Linked DNA regions of Homo sapiens. The protein of the gene in region 1 purifies or fractionates together with the protein of each later gene. This does not show direct contact. Each region holds a gene or a part of one and is shown in the gene's direction. Other genes may lie near its edges.

Region 1 (3,500 bases):
CACCCTCATCCTCACCCGCAGCCTCACCCTCAGTCCTCAGACACTGGGGTCTCCGGCTGTCTCCAACCCTTCAGTTCTTTTCAGTAGCCTCCTTCCCACCAGCATCACACAGAATTAGACCCTGGGACTACATTTCTGGCGGAAGGTGACTGCTTTTTCAAACCACGTGCCTTCTGCAGAAGCCGCTCCCCACGTAGCCCAAGCGTAGGGTGAGACTTGGCACCAGTGGCTGGGGTCGCTTTTGGGTGCCAGAGAGCCCAGATTCCTCTCCCTCCCACGCGCAGCCAGGCCCTTCCTGCCCACGGACCTTGCCTTTTCTTGGTGGTTTTTCTAATCTGGCAAGCCTTGGGGGGCACCTGAGGCATTGCCCCTCTGGCCCAAGCCGCAGGGAGAGCTTGCGATGCTTTGGGTGGCGTGTGTCGTCCAGTCTGCCCCAGGCTCACTTGGGGCCCTTGCATTTGCCACTGGACTCTGCCTTTCGGGAGGCGCTGTGGACCTGAGATTTGGACCCATGGGCCTAGGAGGCCACCTGGGAGGAGAGTGGCCCAGCTGTGCCAGGCAGGTTCCTCATCTGGACAGAACCTGCTCCCTGCAGCCTCTCAAGCTCCCCGAGGGCCCTTCTGGGTCTTGTCTCTCCCACACATTGGGGGTCAGGTTTGAGCCCCTTTGCTGGCGGACCTCTGAGCTGCCCGCCCTTCCCTCCCACCACCCGCCCTGCCTCCTGTGGTGCACAGGGCTCTCCTGGAGGAGGGAGGTCCTGGGCATCCCCTGCCTCCTCACCTTCACCCTCAGGAGTCCCAGAGCCCTGGCTGCTCTGCACAGCAGGCTGGGAAGCAGGCCCTGTGCCCAAGGACTAGCCTGAGAACTGGGGAGGTCCTTTCCTCTTCCCCAGAGGACAAAGAGAGCTGTGAACACCACGGGTCTGTAAAGGGGTCCCCCCACATGCAGGAAAACATGAGTTGTGGCATCACTTACGCCTTCACTCACCAGTAGCCGAGGCACAGCGGGGGTCCTGAGCATGGGCAGGGCAAGCCACTTCCACCCCAGCCATGGAAGGAGGCTGAGGAGGCCAGGGCAGCAGTGGGGACCTGCGGCAGGCAGGGCCTGCAGGGCTCCGGGGCCGGACAGGGTGGATTTCCATTCTGAGTCTGTTTCCCATGAACTCCAGTGCTGACTGGGCCCACTTTGAGTAGGACGCTCAGTGGCTCATTCTCATTCTCATGATGTCTCTGTTATGGGTGGAAACTGAGGCAGAGAGAGGCCCGTGACCTGCGTGGCTTGGAGCCAGCCTCCGTCTTCTTCTCAAACATGCCCTTGAATGGCAGGAGAGTTTTCAGTTCCATGGATGGGATGATGAGTCGGAAGGAAGAGTAAACCTGCACACACCCGTGGCTTCACCCGTCCTCCCCACGCTCCCAGGTTCAGTGGGTGGAGACTGGGTGCAAGCAGGTTGAGGGACAGGTCCTTCTGGGCTGGCCCTGCTGCCGCACCCTGGCTCCCTCTTGCTCAGACAATCCTTCATTGTCGGCCCCATACAAAGCAATGGCTTCCTGCCTGCTCGCCTGTGCGAGGTCACCAGGTATGCAAATTGGGGTGTACCAGGCACAGCTGAGGCCCCCATATGCTGATCCCAGAGTCTGTGCCTCAAGCTAAAGAAGTGAAAGCTCCTTTCATTCATTCATCCAGCTTGAGGAAGAGACCCTGGAGTGAATTTGGAGATAGAGGAGAGAGTCCCAGGTGTCTTGGGGGGCTGGTGTGGCAGGGGAGGCAGCTGAAGATGGTGTGGGGAGCAGGCAGGTGCTCAGGGCGGGGCTGGGTGCAGGGCAGGCATGTGGCTGTGGCTGGCAGCCTCAGAGCCGTCAGGTGCCAGGAGGAGGGACTCGGCTTTGCCAGGCAGTGCCTGGGCTGGAATCTGAAGAGAAAGGAGAACTGAGACCCTATGGTCCTGCCTGGCCTCCAAATTCTGAGTGGGGCCTGGAAGCCGGGACTGGGACATCCCCTAATGTGGAGGGGTGCTACCCACCCAGCCCAGCTCCAGGCCTCCCTGGGGACATTTGCTGGGCCACAGTAGGTCAGCCAGGCCAGGCCCAGGGGCTGGCAAGCTTAAAATAGTTTTCTCAGAGATCCTGCGTCCTTTCCACGCACTGCGCTGAGAGCGCTTTGCAGGGAGCCAGGCTGGGAAGTAAGTGCATGGGGCCTAGGGAAGTAGGTGGGCTTCTAGAAGTGGCACAGGCCGGGCTGTGTCAGCTGCCCACACACGGGGATACAGGCTGGCACCCCAGTTCCCACAGTCTGGGCTGTGCCAGCCACCCGCACGTGGCCACTAGCTCCTCCCAGGTCACTGTCCTGGCTTGAGAGGAGGGGGAGGAAGAGGTCAGCCGGATTCGCCTCTAAAAGACCCTAGCAGAGGAGTCAGGGCCTCCTATCCCGGAGATGCAGCTGACTGACCAGGCCAGCATGAGGAAATCGGAAGAGAACTCTGGCCCCCATGGCCTCCTCCTAAAATAGCGGGCACTGACCCATACACAGGCGCACACGCACGCATACACCCTCCCCAGGCCTGCCCCCAGCCGGAGGCTCCAGGGACACATTATCCCCCGGCTGATCGCCTTGGCCTAATTCACACCCTGGCTGCCAAGGCCTCTGGCAGCAACATCCCCCCTTCCTCCCCTGCGGGGTTGTTGTGGGTTAGAGCAGGGACAGGGCCTGAGGGGGCTAAGCTCCCAGGGAAAGGGCAGCTGGCTCTCTAGATGCACCGGAGGGGCGGGGTGGTTTGCGTTTCTCTCGGGCTGAGAGCCACCTAAGGCTCCGCCTCAGATGTTCTCCCATGGACAGAGGCATCAGGGCAGTGGGGAAAGGATGGGCCGAGAGGTGAGTGGGTGCCCTGGGGCGGGGCAGCCACAGGGGGCCTGAAGTGGCTCACGGGCGGGGCCACCAGTCAGGGCTCCGGGCCTGGGCACATGGGCAGGCTCTGCTTCCAGGGGCTCCTTCCCACCTGCCGGCTGCATGGGAGCCGTGTGGCCGGAGCCCCAGGGGAGACCTTGTCCCTCATTCTGGAGCAGCCGTCAGGAGTACAAGGCCATGGGAGAGGACCCTACTCCATGGAGGTGATGGACCCTCCTCCCGTGATGGGGCAGATTTCAGTAACTGTGTGTGCACAGGAGAGCTCAGCTGGTTCAGGCCTCCAGAAGGTTCCTGGGCAGCGATGGTGGTGGTGTGCTGTCAGAGCCTCCTCCCTAAGCCTGGCTCCCAGGGCCTTGGCTGATGACTGGAATTCACTCCAGGCTCCGGGCCTCTTGTCCCCACCGGCCAGGCGGTTCTGATTCGCAGCCATGGGCAGCTTTTGCACCCAGCTCTCGAGTGACCGCCCCTGGGCTCCTCGTGGGTGCGACAGTGTCCTGGGAGTCCCTGAAGCCCAGGTTTCCCACATAGCAGGCGTTAGGAAGTCGGTACCAAAGTATGGAAGGACTGGCTTGTATTAGTCTGAGTTATCCAGAGAA
Region 2 (3,135 bases), on another chromosome or scaffold:
GCGTGAGCCACCATGCCCGGCCCACCTTGCACATCCTTAACGTTCAAGGCTTCCTGCTTCAATCCCTGTTCCAACTGTCTTGAGGGCCCATTGCTGGCAAGTGGCCAGTCAGATCATGCTGGAGGGAGGAAAGTAGGACTAGTTCAGTTGTTGAGGCTACAGGAGCCACTTTGGGCTGTGGTTTTACAGGCTCACCTTTCTGTTCTATCCTAGAACTTGCTTATTTCAGTTGTTTTTATGTTGTTGCCCCTGGACTTCCTCTGTTCCAGGTAAAAATTCATGCAGGCCCCAAATTTGCCTCCTATCTGACCTTCAGCCCCTCCGAAGTGAAGTCACTCCGAACTGAGTATGGGGACCTGGAATTATGCATTGAAGTAGTGGACAACGTTCAGGATGCCATTGACCACATCCACAAGTATGGCAGCTCCCACACGGATGTCATCGTCACAGAGGACGGTCAGTGTCCAGATGCTTCCCGCATACAGTGTCTGCCTTTGCTGCTTTCTGATCCTGCTCCTCTTAGCCCCCCTTGGGCTGCAGAAAAACATCATTTGAGTAGGCTTATGGTAATGTTTAGTAGTGGTTGCATTTGGTACTTTGATGAGTGCTTTCACATCACTTTATTATATTGTCACAGCTGGAGGAGGAGGGGCAGGGATGATTAGCTCTGCTTCGAAGATGACTAACCCTGTCAGAGGCACTATCATTTAATGCGTGCAGCAAATCTTACAAGGTAGTTAAAATAAACCCATTTTACAGCTGAGGAAACCAAGGCAGAACCAACTCTGCACATTCATTCATTCATTCATTTATTCCACAAATATGTATGCAGGGACACTCCTGGGTGTCAGATACTGGAGCCTCAATGGTGGAGGATGCCAGTAGGGCCCCAATGAGGAATTTACAGTCAGCTAATTAGGGCACCAGAGCAGTACCACCCGTATTAACAGCCAACATTTACCAAGCACTCACTGTGTGCTAGGCACTAGCATGAGTACTCCCCAGGTGTTTCATCCTCTCTACAACCCTATCAGCTAGGTCATGTTGTAAGTCCCTTTTGACCCAGACACAGAGAGTTTTGTACACCTGCAGAAGGTCACAAAGCTAGCAGGTGTACAGCTGGAGTTCAGGCCTAGGAAGTCTGGCTCTGGAGCCCATAAGTAGGAAGTTTAGGCAGGTCACCTGCATGGGAGATCTGGATTCCAACTCAGTCTTTCCACAACACCGTGATTGATGAAGCTAACTTGTCTTCTTCCTGTTGAGATTTTTCATAAGCCTGAGTATTTAATACGTGAGAACACATGGAGAGGCCCCAGTGGGGACCCAGACCCTGCCCTGATCTGTCACCAGTCAATGGCTGGAAACAGGGATGTTCTCTGGGTATCATCCTAACTTGGTTTCTCCTTCTTCACCCTGCAGAAAACACAGCGGAGTTCTTCCTGCAGCACGTAGACAGTGCCTGTGTGTTCTGGAATGCCAGCACTCGCTTTTCTGATGGTTACCGCTTTGGACTGGGTAAGAAAGACTCTGGTTGGGAAGAAAGAAGTTCCTTGTGAAGCACTGTGTGGTCTAGGGGTATGTTGAGGTGGGAAAGACACCTCCCCTTGACTGTCACATGCTTGGTCAAGATAAGAGAGAAACAGGCTGGGTGCCGTGGCTCACGCCTGTAATCCCAGCACTTTGGGAGGCCGAGGTGGGTGGATCACCTGAGGTCAGGAGTTCGAGACCAGCGTGGCCAACATGGTGAAACCCTGTCTCTACTAAAAATGCAAAAAATTAGCCAGGTGTGGTGGTGCATGCCTGTAATCCCAGCTACTCAGGAGGCTGAGGCAGGAGAATTGCTTGAACCCGGGAGGCAGAGGTTGCGGTGAGCCCGAGATTACGCTACAGCACTCCAGCCTGGAGGACAGAGTGAGACACCATCTCAAAAAAAAAAAAAAAATAGAGACAGACTTCTGGCAAGGTAGGATTATCAGGGAGAATAATTAATGAAACCTCCCATGAGTTGGTGGAAGGCCTATCTTCTAAGCATTTCACATGCTAAGAAGGCAGGTACTTGTATTCATTTTTCAAAGAGGGAGAATGAGATTCAGAGAAGTATAGTAACTTGCCCAAAGTCCCACAGCTGGCATTCAGACCCAAACTTGAGCAAGTCCAAAGCCTGGGTTCTCCCGCTACAGCGTGGGCAACCACAGCCTGCCTTTTTACACAGGCTGCGCCAGAGGTACATGCTGTGTCCCTTGAGAGCACTCCTTTTACAGACTTATTTCGTCAAAATGGCACAGCCAGGTTGCCTCGGAGATAGGAAACCCCACAATGGTAGGACAAAAGAAGGTGCCGTGGGCCTAAGTACCAGCATCAAAACAAACAGGCCAGCCAGAAGTACAAGGTTACCTTCTACAGCAGACCTTGAAATAAAAAGCTTCAGAAGGGCACTTCTGTCCCTTTCCATTAGGTATAAAATTTCCAGCCCTCTGTCGTGTTGGGGTTATTTGGACAGTCTCTCGTTTTCAGGGGTACCAGTATATAAAACTCCAGAACGGGCGCAGTGGCTCACGCCTATAATTCCAGCACTTTGGGAGGCCAAGGCGGGCAGATCACCTGAGGCCGGGAGTTGGAGATCAGCGTGACCAACATAGAGAAACCCCATCTCTACTAAAAATACAAAATTAGCTGAGCATGGTGGCACTTGCCTGTAATCCCAGCTACTCGGGAGGCTGAGGCAGGAGAATCGCTTGAACCTGGGAGGCAGAGGTTGCAGTGAGCCGAGACCGCACCATTGCGCTCTAGCCTGGGCAACAAGAGCTAAACTCCATCTCAAAAAACAAAACAGACAAAAAACCTCCAATAATACATTTATGACACGTTTTCTGAATATTTGAGAATTATTTCAACCACTCAAAACATTTTAGGCCACGGGCAGTGGCTCACACCTGTAATCCCGGCACTTTGAGAGGCTGAAGCAGGAGGATCTCATGAGTCGGGGAGTTCGAGACCAGCCTGGGCAACGCAGCGAGACCTCCTCTCTACAGAGATGAAAAAATTATCCAGGTGTGGTGGCGTGAGCCTGTAGTCCCAGTTACTCAGGAGGCTGAGGCAAGAGGATCCCTTGAGCCCAGGAGTTCGAGGCTGCAG
Region 3 (3,500 bases), on another chromosome or scaffold:
GGAAAACGTTCAAAGATACCCTGAGATAAGATTTTTTCCCCCAAAATCAAATAAAGCTTATCATTATCAGTAAGTATTCTCTCATATTTGAAGACATTTATTATAATTATTTAATTATACACTTAACAGTTAAGTTACCTGAACAAAATAAAAGTTAACCCAACAAATATTTATTGGGAGCCCACTACGTAAAGATAGTTTGTTAATGAACATTTCAGAAGATGAAAAGGGAGTATTGAACAGTCTCACTGTGCATAAAGCTTATAGTCTAGACAAAAAGATAAGGAAAGGAAGAGCTAACATTTATTAAGTCCTTAAACACCTTATTTGGTTTCAGGTACTATATTAGATACTTTACTCACCTTATTTCCAATAATCCTCACATATGCTCTGTGAACTAGGAATTACTACCCTTCCTACTATTACAGAGAAGTAAACTGTGATTCTCAGACCTTAGAATCCAAGGTCTAGGAGTTATCTAAGGCTTAGATAACTTCCCCAAGTCACACAGCTGCTAAGTTGAAGTTGAGGTTTGAACCCAAGTCTGTCTCAGCACCCATGCTGTTTCCACAACACCACGTGGTATTTCAGGTAGAAAACTCAAATGTAAGGTACATATGATGAATGTTATTAAACAAGTAAAAATGAACCATGGATTTCAAGAGAGGAAAGGGTCACAACTATGAGGAAATTATGAAAGGCTGCATTTTGTAGGTAGTTTTTGACATGTGTCTTTAAAAATGGGTAGGAATTTGACAGACAGTAATAACTTGAATAAAGATTCAGAAACTAAAACCCTTGGACATTCTGAGTTTCGCAATTCCCATAGGTCTACAGGAGATGTCCAGTAGACAGCTAGACATTCTGGGCTGTCTGGGGCACAAAGATACCAAGACTAGAGAAAAATACATTTGTGAGGCCTTATAACCAGAATTTGTAGCTAGGTATATTTGAGAAGAGAGATACCAGATGAAATCAATCAATATAACTTATTTTTTAAATTGCTACAATAAGATTGTTTTCTGAATACATCCAATAATAGAGAATCCTATTTACAACTAACATTTTTTCTTCTCTCAGCAGTTACAATGGTTGGAATAGGGATGCTTATTCCCTGAGAATCTGGGGTCTAGGGTGAGTAATTAAAATATATATCATTGTATAAAATAGATTCAAAGCCATTTACCCCCCTTTTATATCAATAGTTAAATTTACTGTGGGTTAAGGTTCTAGCATTTTAAATTACTTAGTAAAGTATTATATTAACCAAGATAGTACTGTACTTTATTACATTGCCCTTCCTTGACATCATTTTTAACTTAGAAAGTATTACAATATTATTGCATTTCATATGTTTGCTTTGGTTTTATATAATGAAAAATGATTTTGATCATTTGCCACAGATTTTTACCTCAAGTATCCACAGATCTAACACCTCAGACTTTCAGTGAAAAAGTTCTACAAGGGAAAAATCATTGGGTGATTGATTTCTATGCTCCTTGGTGTGGACCTTGCCAGAATTTTGCTCCAGAATTTGAGCTCTTGGCTAGGGTAAGTCATACCTGTCTTAAATAAGTTGTAGCCACATTCATGTTTTAGTAATTAGATAAAACATTGTAAGTATGTAATTTTTAGGTTTTTTTCTTAAATGTTTCCTCTGAATTTAAAAATAGCTATTATATTTCTATGACTGTAATGGTTGTAGTAGATTTCCTCTTTCTTTGTTAAAGCTTTTAGCTAACATCTTCTCTATCTTGGTAGACATCATCATCTACTAGCCATAAAAGCCAGAAACGTCTCTTTCTTCTCCCTCTTGTCTACTTTCTCCTCCCCACCCCAGTACTCTGTTGCCCTCCAGGCAGTTACTAGATTGTGTCAGTTTTATCCCCTAAATGTCTTTCAAATGTCATTTCTTATTCATCTCTACTGCTAACCTGTTTCTTCAACCCTTTATCATCTCTTGTCTAGACTTAACCATATTTGCCTTTTAAGTGCAGTCTTCCCTTGATATACTCAGGGGATTGGTTCCAGGAACCCCCATTCCATACCAAAATCTGTGCAGCTCAGGCCTCACAGTGGGCCCTCTGTATGCAGGGTTTCACATCCTATGACTATTCTGTTTTCCATCTGCAATTGCTTAAAAAAAAAAATTCCCAGTTCAAGCAGTTCAACACAGTTCAAGCCTTTGTTGTTCAAGAGTCATCTATGGTATTATACTGTCTACCTTTGTCAGTGCTGCCCTGGTGATCTTCTAAAATATTTCCCTCTCTGACTTACTAAGTTTCTTAATATGCATACATTGACTTCAGGTGTCTGATATGAGCTCTATCTCTATTGTCCACCTCACACCTTAGATTCCAGTGTAACAGAGTACTCCAGGTTCTCTGAACATGTGTCCTTATTTACATGCCGCTCCCTCTCTCTAAAATGCTCTGTCCTTACCTTGGTCATCTGTATTTTTTCTCCTCTTACTGCAAAACTCAGCTCCGATGGCACTGCTCTATTCTCTGCCCTTCTCAGTTAATCAGTGTCACCTGGATATGTTATCAAGTGTACTGATACAGTGCATATTAATTCTTTATTTATTATTACTTGAAAGATATTTAATTTGACCAGAAATAAAAGGAGCTGGATACCAATGGAAATAATTAGTTGTAGCAATTTTGGGTTTTGTTCGGTTGGTTGGTTTTATTTTTCGGTATAGCATTGTCCATCTTCCTTTGTAAATGGCTGTCTCTTCCTGAGGGCAAAGTCCATGTTTTATTTATTTTTATATCCTCAGGGCCTAACTCAGTAAATGCTTATATAAAATTAAACTGAATACATACCCTCAATGCAGTCTGAGCTTTTGGTGTTTCTTTCTGTCGTAACAGTCTTATTAGTGACCTAATCCAGATTGATAGCTTTCTTGCCTCCATAACTCGAGGAACTCTTGCCACTAGTGTTGGTATAAAACACTCAACTGGAATGAGAAAGTCAGCTCCAGTTCCACCAGTTCACACTAAAGCTTAGCATCCCAGGCCATGGGAATTTTTTAGCAGAGGGATTTTAAAGGTCTTACTAGCTATAAAAGATTATTTTTGTTATTAGCTGGTGCATCAGATAAGAGGTTTATTCTTTCCATTCTAATCTTCTTATGCTTCCTTCTGTAATAATTCTGCTTTACTCCATTTCTCATGTACTAAAAACTTTAGTTATAAACTTTGTAATGCAACTCTATATTGTATCTAGTAGAAAATTATTAAACATGAAAAAGACCATTTATTCAACAAATTTTAAGTACCAAATGAAAAGCCATTATGCTAAGTAGTAGGGCCACGTAACTCCACATGAAAGAAAAGGAAGATGAAAAGAAAGAAATTCCATGTCTTTAAGGAGATTTTAATCTAGTGGAAAGAGAAAATGGAAATAAATATAAGTAATACAAGATAATTGCTACAGTAAAATTAGAATGAAGCTGGAACAGGGGTAGAAGGGTGTCAGTGATGCCAGAGAAGGAT
Region 4 (3,500 bases), on another chromosome or scaffold:
GGCTCAAGCGATTCTCCTGCCTCAGCCTCCCTAGTAGCTGGGTTTATAGGCGTGTACCACCACGCCTGGCTACTTTTGTATTTTAAGTAGAGATGGGGTTTCGGCTTGTTGGCCAGGCTGATCTTAAACTCCTGACCTCAGGTGATCTGCCCGCCTCAACCTCCCAAAGTGCTGGGATTACGGGAGTGAGCTACCACGCCCGGCCTGCAATTTTTTAAAACATAGATTCATACTACAGATGGAGAAGTTTGTAATTTTATCCTCAAATTCCCCTACTAACTCCCTTCCATAAGTTTTAGATATTCTCTGAAAGTGGGTTGGTGTCCAGGATGATTTTACTTTTAAGCACTATGTGTTTGGGCTTAGCTAGCTGGGTCCAGCCTGCCCTGTAGTTTTCTTGAACATGGAGGGCTGGGCATTGGTCCTGACCAAGTTAAGTGGTAGGTCTCCCAAGCAAGCGTTCATTCTACCCTAGGGGTAAGTGTCCTCAATTTTTTAAGGCATTTTAAAACTCAGTATTTGTCTTTACCTTTTCGTTTATGATTCTAAAATCGGTTTAGCATTATAAGATAGGGTGCTCTTTATGCATGCTAGTTTAGCAGTCTGTGTGAAAGTTCCCTTGTCTTCACAGTGTTGTCACATACTCAGCCAGTTTGTTGTATTGGGCCAGTTTCCTCCAAAGCTTTTCTGAAACCTATTTGTGAAACTCCAAGTAAATCACATTAAAATTTGATGCAATAGCTATTTGTATAATTATAATTTAGATGATTTAATCTGTTGTATTTCTGTTCACTCTTGTAGCCCTCTGATTCTGTTCACATTACAAATGATGATGAAAGATTTCTACATCATCTTATCATAGAGGAGAAGGAAAAAGATAGCTTTACTGCTGTGGTTATCACAGGGGTACAACCAGAACACATACAGTACTTGAAAAATTATTTCCACCTTTGGACACGACAGTTAGCGTAAGTAATTATATTTGGCTTAGGAAATGTTGCTACTTAACTTTTTTAAGGCAGAAAACATTACAGATATATTGAAGCCTCTTTGGTATCCGTTTTGCTCCTGTCTCATTTTCTTCCCTTTAGTATTATCCAGTACTCTGATATTGGTGTTAAAACAGCTCTCTATTCATTTATTCTGTAAATATTTATAGATCACCTCTAGTGTACTGAGCATTATTTGAGGCACAGGATTTTGACAATATTATAAAATTAAAAAAGAACTTCACAGTTTGTCAGATTGAGCACTATATCACTTCCATGACCCCGTTTTGTGCTTCTTTTCCATAGGACCTGTCGTAATCTTCCATACCATATATATTTATTTTTGTTGTTAAATTCACTGCTGTATCTCCAATGTCTTCTAGAAGAATACTTGCTACATGGTAGATGCTCAAATGTTTATCAAGTGAATGAATGCATCAAGCCTATTAAAATAAAAAATATACGTACATATGTGCCTATATGACATTAGTACTGAAAATAATCATTGTGTTTTTATTCCAGTAACACTTGTAGGGACTCTATATTCCATTAGACCAAATCAGAGGAATAGTTATTTAATGGCTCTAAAAAAAAATTTTTTTTTTTTTTTTTGAGACGGAGTTTCACTCTTGTTGCCCAGGCTGGAGTGCAATGGCGCACTCTTGGCTCACTGCAACCACCACCTCCTGGGTTCAAGTGATTCTCCTGCCTCAGCCTCCCGAGTAGCTGGGATTACAGGCGCGTGCCACCACACTCAACTAATTTTTGTATTTTTAGTAGAGACAGGTTTTTGCCGTGTTGGCCAGGCTGGTCTTGAACTCCTGACCTCAGGTGATCCACCCACCTCAGCCTCCCAAAGTACTGGGATTACAGGCGTGAGCCATCGCGCCCGGCCTAAAATTTTTTTTTTATAGCTATGTGATACATACGATTTACTGTATTGTTTCCCTAATTTGCATTAGTATGAATTACTGAGACTTGCAAAATGGGTACATCTGCTCAAAATTCATATTTTAAAAATGTATCTTTTTACATTTACCCAAAAGGCTATTGTTCTTGAGAGTCTCAATTTTATACGTAATTATACGCTAAGAGAATTTTAAAATTTTTTTATGGGAAAATAAATTTGGTTTTAGGAATACCTTTTTTCTTGTTGAAGTTGTTTATTATCCCTGTTACCCAAGGTATTTAAGTAGGACTTTGCAGTTTTCTTCAAGTACATATTTTATTAGCTATTTTATAGTTTATTGAAGGAACTCAGTGTACATTAACACATAATTTAAATATACTCTTGCTCTAATGAAGGATTATGAAGAAATATTGCAAATTTCTATTTCACGAATAAAGACGTGGTATTTTATAATCCTGAACAATGTTACCAAAATATAATCTTTTTTAACCTTTTCTGAAAAAATAAAGAGGTGTTATTTCCAAAATGTTGGTTTTCAGTGAGATGGTGTCAAACTTACTAGTTTTGTTTTTGGAATCTTAGGGTAAGATTGTCTCAGTGCTATAGGAGAGGAGAGATGAATGTTCTAGAACAGGGGTCCCCAACGCCCCGGTCGTGAACTGGTACCCATCTGTGGCCTTTTAGGAACCCGGCCCCACAGTGAGTGGTGGGCCCGAGTGAGCATTACCACCTGGCTCCGCCTCCTGTCAGATCACTGGCAGCACTAGATTTCTCATAGGAGCACGAACCCTAATGTGAACTGTGCATGTGAGATATTGCGTGCTCCTTATGAGACTCTAGTGCTTGTCGATCTGAGGTGGAACATTTTCATCCCAAATCACCCCCCTTCAACTCCCATCTCTGGAAAAATTGTCTTCCATGAAACTGGTTTTGGTGCCAAAAAGGTTGGGGACTGCTGTTCTGGAATGGTATTCTCTTATTGAGATTAGATACCTAATCCAGTTTACCACCGATAATTGAGTCCTTTCTGGAACGTACCTGGTAAGTAGAATTATAGACTCTTGCTGTCTAGTTTATATTTATTTGATGAATTATTCCTCTTGGAAGTGGTGTATGTGGTCTTTGAAGTTGGAAAGGTCTGGGTTGAAGCCCACGGCTCCCTAACTCTATTCTGTGATGTCAGATAACTTACATACACTTCTTGCACCCCAGGTTCTATATCTGTAAAATGAGATGCAGTAATACCTGCATCTCAATTGTTTTTACCATTAAATGGAATATGTATTTTAAAATGCTTAATAAAGTGCTTGATACCTAGTAAATAGTGTTAAAATATTTTGATAGAAGATTACATTAACTATAATTTTATGTGAATTAAAAGTATAAAATTATTCTTCTCTATTTTAGGCATATTTATCACTACTATATTCATGGCCCAAAAGGAAATGAAATACGAACATCAAAAGAAGTTGAACCTTTCAACAATATTGATATTGAAGTAAGAGAAAAATCCATCTTAAAATAATAAAAATTATGAGATATTTGTTCCAGTTCCAAATGACTCAGGATAATAAAAAACACTTGATAATTAGACAACTTCT

Evidence for each region. The genes of interacting proteins can lie anywhere in the genome.
Region 2: the proteins of SLCO4A1 (region 1) and ALDH18A1 purify together in Homo sapiens (affinity purification with mass spectrometry; one large-scale study listed by BioGRID and IntAct). This does not show direct contact.
Region 3: the proteins of SLCO4A1 (region 1) and DNAJC10 purify together in Homo sapiens (affinity purification with mass spectrometry; one large-scale study listed by BioGRID and IntAct). This does not show direct contact.
Region 4: the proteins of SLCO4A1 (region 1) and SMCHD1 fractionate together in Homo sapiens (co-fractionation; one large-scale study listed by BioGRID). This does not show direct contact.

Annotation. Positions count from the first base shown.
Region 1 is NC_000020.11:62,645,503-62,649,002, forward strand, and holds part of SLCO4A1 (solute carrier organic anion transporter family member 4A1), read left to right. Parts: intron 1-3,458; exon of another isoform or gene 3,459-3,500. UniProt on the Homo sapiens protein: Organic anion antiporter with apparent broad substrate specificity.
Region 2 is NC_000010.11:95,608,577-95,611,711, reverse strand, and holds part of ALDH18A1 (delta-1-pyrroline-5-carboxylate synthase), read left to right. Parts: intron 1-269; coding exon 270-456; intron 457-1,419; coding exon 1,420-1,515; intron 1,516-3,135. UniProt on the Homo sapiens protein: Bifunctional enzyme that converts glutamate to glutamate 5-semialdehyde, an intermediate in the biosynthesis of proline, ornithine and arginine.
Region 3 is NC_000002.12:182,757,757-182,761,256, forward strand, and holds part of DNAJC10 (dnaJ homolog subfamily C member 10 isoform 1 precursor), read left to right. Parts: coding exon 1-69; intron 70-1,080; coding exon 1,081-1,134; intron 1,135-1,403; coding exon 1,404-1,551; intron 1,552-3,500. UniProt on the Homo sapiens protein: Endoplasmic reticulum disulfide reductase involved both in the correct folding of proteins and degradation of misfolded proteins.
Region 4 is NC_000018.10:2,693,726-2,697,225, forward strand, and holds part of SMCHD1 (structural maintenance of chromosomes flexible hinge domain-containing protein 1), read left to right. Parts: intron 1-801; coding exon 802-968; intron 969-3,306; coding exon 3,307-3,397; intron 3,398-3,500. UniProt on the Homo sapiens protein: Non-canonical member of the structural maintenance of chromosomes (SMC) protein family that plays a key role in epigenetic silencing by regulating chromatin architecture.